Regions from separate parts of the Homo sapiens genome. Here region 1 is linked to region 2. Evidence: fine-mapped expression QTL. A gene starts in region 2. The other region holds a variant in brackets. All regions are shown on one strand. Distances are from middle to middle.

What was found.
Region 1: its variant is fine-mapped to the expression of RBBP9 in nasal epithelium (TOPMed, PIP above 0.99).

Annotation. Positions count from the first base shown.
Region 1 is chr20:18,535,756-18,538,676 of GRCh38, forward strand. The region is part of intron 12 of SEC23B (SEC23 homolog B, COPII component); the gene reads left to right. Among named protein-coding and RNA genes, the nearest start is that of SEC23B, 29 kb to the left of the region's middle. The variant C/T (reference allele first, on the strand shown) is at 1,663.
Region 2 is chr20:18,495,407-18,498,327 of GRCh38, forward strand. RBBP9 (RB binding protein 9, serine hydrolase) reads right to left here and starts at 1,819. Exons shown (of 5, transcript NM_006606.3): 1 at 1,663-1,819; 2 at 432-474. The coding sequence starts at 1,761. RefSeq lists enhancers at 1,372-1,421, 1,592-1,751, 1,604-2,168, 1,772-1,821, 1,922-1,981.

The DNA of each region.
Region 1 (2,921 bases), 40 kb after region 2:
CTTCACATGTCTTCATGTCTTAGTGTCCTGTTTTGTGATTTATCTCAAACCAGTGGTCTCTGGTTACTTTCTTCACAAACCAATATTCCTTGGGTATTGTATTAGGCCTGATGATAGTCTGGCATGACCTTTTCTTATTTATTCCTTCAAGGGTTTAGTCGGAGTCAGGCAACAAATTACTTTTGTCCTTTTATTGTTGAACTGATAAGGTCATTAGAAGTGTAATAGATTTTACCAGTCATCATAATGTTGGTGAATTTTTTAGTGCATCGGTTCTTTCCCTAATATTTTATTATGAAAAATTCCAAACATACAGAAAAATTGAAAGAATTGTACGGTGAACACGTACTACCTAGGTGAACCCATCAACTTGATTCTGTAATTAACATTTTACTCTACTGGCATACCTTGGAAATACTGTGGGTTCAGTTCCAGACTACCACAATAAAGTGAATATTGCAATAAAGCAAGTCACATGAATATTTTGGTTTCCTATTGCATATAAAAGTTATGTTTGCACTATAGTATGTTAAGTGTTAAATAGCATTATGTCTTTGAAAACATTGTTCATTCTTGGATTAAAAAAATACTTTACAGTTGACCCTTGAGTAGTGTTGGGGTGCTGACACTGCATAGTTAAAAATCCACATATAACGGCCGGGTGCTGTGGCTCACGCCTGTAATCCCAGCACTTTGGGAGGCCGAGGCGGGCGGATCATGAGGTCAGGAGATCGAGACCATCCTGGCTAATATGGTGAAACCCTGTCTCTACTAAAAATACAAAAATTTAGCCAGGTGTGTTGGTGGGTGCCTGTAGTCCCAGCTACTTGGGAGGCTGAGGCAGGAGAATGGCGTGAACCCAGGAGGCAGAGCTTGCAGTGAGCCAAGATCGTGCCACTGCACTCCAGCCTGGGCAACAGAGCGAGACTCCATCTCAAAAAAAAAAAAAAATCCACATATAACTTTAACTCCCCCAAAACTTAACTACTAGTAGTCCACTGTTGACTGGGAACCTGACCGATAACAGTTGATTAACACATATTTTGTAAGTAATATATATTATGTCCTGTATTCTTACAATAAAGTAAGCTAGAGAAAAGAGAATGTTATTAAGAAAATCATAAGGGAAGGAAAGTGTATTTACTATTTGTTAAGTGGAAATGAACATCACAAAGTCTTCATACTCTCATCTTCATGTTCAGTAGGCTGAGGAGGAGGAGGAAGAGGAGGGTTTGGTCTTGCAGTCTTGGGTGGCAGAGGCAGAAGAAAATCCACATATAAGTGGACCTGTACAGTTCAAACCTGTGTTACTCATCATTAAAAAGTCAGGAAACAACAGGTGCTGGAGAGGATGTGGAGAAATAGGAACACTTTTACACTGTTGGTGGACTGTAAACTAGTTCAATCCTTGTGGAAGTCAGTGTGGCGATTCCTCAGGGATCTAGAACTAGAAATACCATTTGACCCAGCCATCCCATTACTGGGTATATACCCAAAGGACTATAAATCATGCTGCTATAAAGACACATGCACACGTATGTTTATTGTGGCTCTATTCACAATAGTAAAGACTTGGAACCAACCCAAATGTCCAACAATGATAGACTGGATTAAGAAAATGTGGCACATATACACCATGGAATACTATGCAGCCATAAAAAA[C/T]GATGAGTTCATGTCCTTTGTAGGGACATGGATGAAATTGGAAATCATCATTCTCAGTAAACTATCGCAAGGACAAAAAAACACCGCATGTTCTCACTCATAGGTGGGAATTGGACATTGAGAACACATGGACACAGGAAGGGGAACATCACACTCTGGGGACTGTTGTGGGGTGGGGGAAGGGGGGAGGAATAACATTAGGAGATATAACTAATGCTAAATGATGAGTTAATGGGTACAGCACACCAGCATGGCACATGTATACATATGTAACTAACCTGCACATTGTGCACATGTACCCTAAAACTTAAAGTATAATAATAATAAAAAATAAATAAATAAATAAAAAAACCTGTGTTGCTCAAGGGTCAACTATATTGCTCAAAAATGTTAATGCTCATCTGATCCTTTAGTGAGTCATACTCTTTTGCTGGTGGAAGGTCTTACATTGATGTTGTTGGCTGCTGACTGATCAGGTTAGTAGTTGCTGAAGGCTGAGTGGCTGTGGCAGTTTCTTCTCTTTTTGTTTTTTTTTTAATTAAGACAAAGTCTTGTTCTATCACCCAGGCACGATCTATCACCCAGGCACGGTCTTGGCTCACTGCAACCTCCACCTCACAGGTTCAAGCCATTCTCCCACCCCAGCCTCCCGAGTAGCTAGGCTTACAGGTGCCAGCCACCATGTCTGGCTAGTTTTTGTATTTTTAGCAGAGACAAGGTTTTGCCACAATGGCCAGGCTGGTCTTGAACTGACCTCAAGTGATCTGCCTGCCTCAGCTCCCAAAGTGTTGGAATTACAGGTGTGAGCTACCACGCCCCACCTGGGAATTTCTTTTTTTTTTTTTTTTTTGAGACGGGGTCTCGCTCTGTACCCCAGGCTGGAGTGCAGTGGCATGATCTTGGCTCACTGCAAGCTTCGCCTCCTGGGTTCACGCCATTCTCCTGCCTCAGCCTCCCGAGTAGCTGGGACTACAGGCACCCGCCACCACGCCCAGCTAATTTTTTTTTTGTATTTTTAGTAGAGACGGGGTTTCACCCTGTTAGCCAGGATGGTCTCGATCTCCTGACCTCGTGATCCGCACGTCTCTGCCTTCCAAAGTGCTGGGATTACAGGCGTGAGCCACCATGCCTGGCCGGAATTTCTTGAAATAAGGCAACAATGAAATTTGCTGCATCAGTCGACTCTTCCTTCCAGGAAAGATTTCTCTGTAGCATGCAGTGTTGTTTGATAGCTTTTTACCCACAGTAGAACTTCTTTA
Region 2 (2,921 bases):
ATCACCACTCCCTAATCTCAAGTACCCAGGGACGCAAACACTGCGGAAGGCCGCAGGGTCCTCTGCCTAGGAAAACCAGAGACCGTTGTTCACTTGTTTATCTGCTGACCTTCCCTCCACTATTGTCCTGTGACCCTGCCAAATCCCCCTCTGCGAGAAACACCCAAGAATGATCAATAAATAAATAAATAAATAAATAAATAAATAAATAAATAAAAATGACAAATTCACAGAATTGAAAAAAAAAAAAAAAAAAGAATTTTCTATGGCTTTTGGTTCACACCCTCCTCCCCAAGCTGCTTGCCTTATTCTTTCTTAGGTATATAGGCATCTTTGGTTCCTCCACTATGATATTCTTGTTCTCTACCACAAAAATGGTAATATCAAAACCCAACAAGATGAGGCTATTTAAAAACAAGTTTAAAACTTACTTGGGTCGGGCATGTTTTTAGCCAAACACTGGAAACCAGGTATCTATGATATGAGGGGGGAGAAAAAGCTATAATAAAGAGCTTAATTACAACTAATACTTTGCTAATAAGAAATGAGGCACCTGATATGATCGTTACCAATTCAGTATTAACTTGTGTTATGAAATGAAGTAGGTTAAGTGACCATCTTTTCGCATGAACTCCATCTGTAGTTCTGTATCTAGGCAGCTCTGCTGATCTCTATAGAGAGACCTATATCTGCATTTGTACACCCATATTTGCCTCTACAGGCCTGCATCTATAGAGAGGCATGAACAAATGTGTTCTAGACAGACTGACCTGGAGCCAAATAGACTGTGTTCCAGGGAGTAGGTAAAACGTGGCACAGGAACGTGATACAGAAATTTGGAGACAGCATACTCTCAGAAGCTCCAGCCCTGACCTTTGGGGTTGTAACTCTGACCAGGGTTTTCAGCCACAGCGCTGCAATCTATTCTGGAGACCCGCTCTAGAGGACAGCAACCCAGGGAGCCGACTTACCGCCTGGTTACAGAAGAGGGTTAAAAAATAAAAATCAAACGGCACAGGTCAGCCTACAGTAAGATGCCACTTTTATAAAGCTCACCAAGAAGCCAAATAGAACAGTCTGTTGTTTAAAAGGTATATTCATAGGTTGAAAAGTACTTCAATTTTAAAAAGAGAAGCAGATGAAAAAATTCAGGATGGCACGGGACTGAGATGGGTAGACATAAGGGTCGTTTGGAAGATGATGTATAGGCAATGTCCCAGGTTTTAGTTTGGTAATTCATTACATTATGCCTCATAATGTAGACGCATGTTACGTATATCCTTTGTATATATTAAGTATAGCATATTTAATTTTTTAAAAGCTGAAGCGGGAAGCAGTGAACATGTAAAATTATCTGGGAAGTCCCAAATCTGAACCAGCAGCAGATACGGGGGGCGGGGCTCAGGGGCTCAGCCTCGGTAGTTCAAAGGGGTTCCTTTAACTCTAAAGGCTGAGCCCTCAGAGAAGTCTTCCAGGCAGTTTTACCAGTCAAAATTCGACCACTAGCTCAGACTTTAAGAGAAGGCAGCGGGGGAGAGGCAGGAAAACACACAGGGCTTTGCTAGAGGGGATTAGACGCCTATTCAAACTTCAGCCCTCAGTCCTCTCCCGCCGTCCCTCCCTCCAGGCTGACTTCACGGAGCAGCGGCGTTGGGCGCTTACCTTCTCCAGCTCCTTTTTCACCCAGCCATACCAGCCGTGGGTGGTCACATCCCCGCCTCCGTTCCCGGGAACAATCACTGCCTTGCTAGGAGAAGCCATGAGTGCAGCGAGGCCAGAGTTCCCCAGCGCGGGTCCAGCGGAGCTGAGCCCAGCCTGCTCCCGCAGGGAGCCTGCGCCGCGGCATCCTGGGAGTTGTAGTTGCGGGGACCTGGGAGGCCGGGCTCTTTCCTCCTTGGCCTGCCTTCCGCTGGCTGCGTGGGGCAGCCAAGAACAAAGCCTGCGAGCTTCCATCAATTGTAAAGCAAAGCACCCTTTACTTGCCTCTTACTAGTGCTCTCATGTTTTTCCCTTATTTAAGACAGGCTATGACACGGTTGGGGTGTGTTATTTCTTTGCTAGATTTACTGATATTTCTATAGGAAAGTTTGTTTTTGGTTTCAAACATGCAGAAAACCCATTTATAACCTGGGAACGCCTGAAATCCATATTATTTTTCCTTCTGAGTTTAAAACAGTTTTTAGTAGTCAGTATCAGCCCTGGTTGTTGTTTTTCATTGCTTTGAATGAAATTTCCTTGCATAAAGCTACTAACCCAAGTAAAACAAGCAAAAATTTAATTAAATACCAAGAAAATACTTCGTCAGATTTTCATATTAAACCAGCTGATACTGAAATTGTTTAAAATAGTTTATAACCAATGCTTAGTCCCATATTCCTGGGAAGACAAACAAAGCTTCATGTACATTTGGTCACCGGGTGGGCCATTTAAACATTTTGTAAGGGGATTTCATTCAATTGTTATTTGAATTCCAATTTGTCATTCTGGTTGTATAAAAGCTTTCCCATGCAAGAGGGCTGATGTTATAACAGTAGATTATTATGCTACAGTGTATTTTCCCCCGGTAAAGAAAGCTTTTTATGGTTTGAATTTTCTGGAAACATTGGAGAAGACTGTCCTTGTCATCCACACTACAACAAAACTTCAGGACCTTGGGCTTTGGGTTCATGGTCTCGCAAATGAGAACGGTCCCTCCACACTTTTGGAACAGTGCACCCATTGGAACTTTTGAGGTAAAGCTACCCTGGGAAATTTCTCCCAAGAAGAAAATGGCATCCTTGATGTGAACAGCTTTTCCCAAGTTCACAGATTAAGACTTCTACTACCATGAAACTCTTATCTTTCAATATTTTTTGTCTTCCTTATGCCTCTACAAACAATAGAAGTGGAAAAGGGGTCTGTTATGTGCACTTATGGGGTAT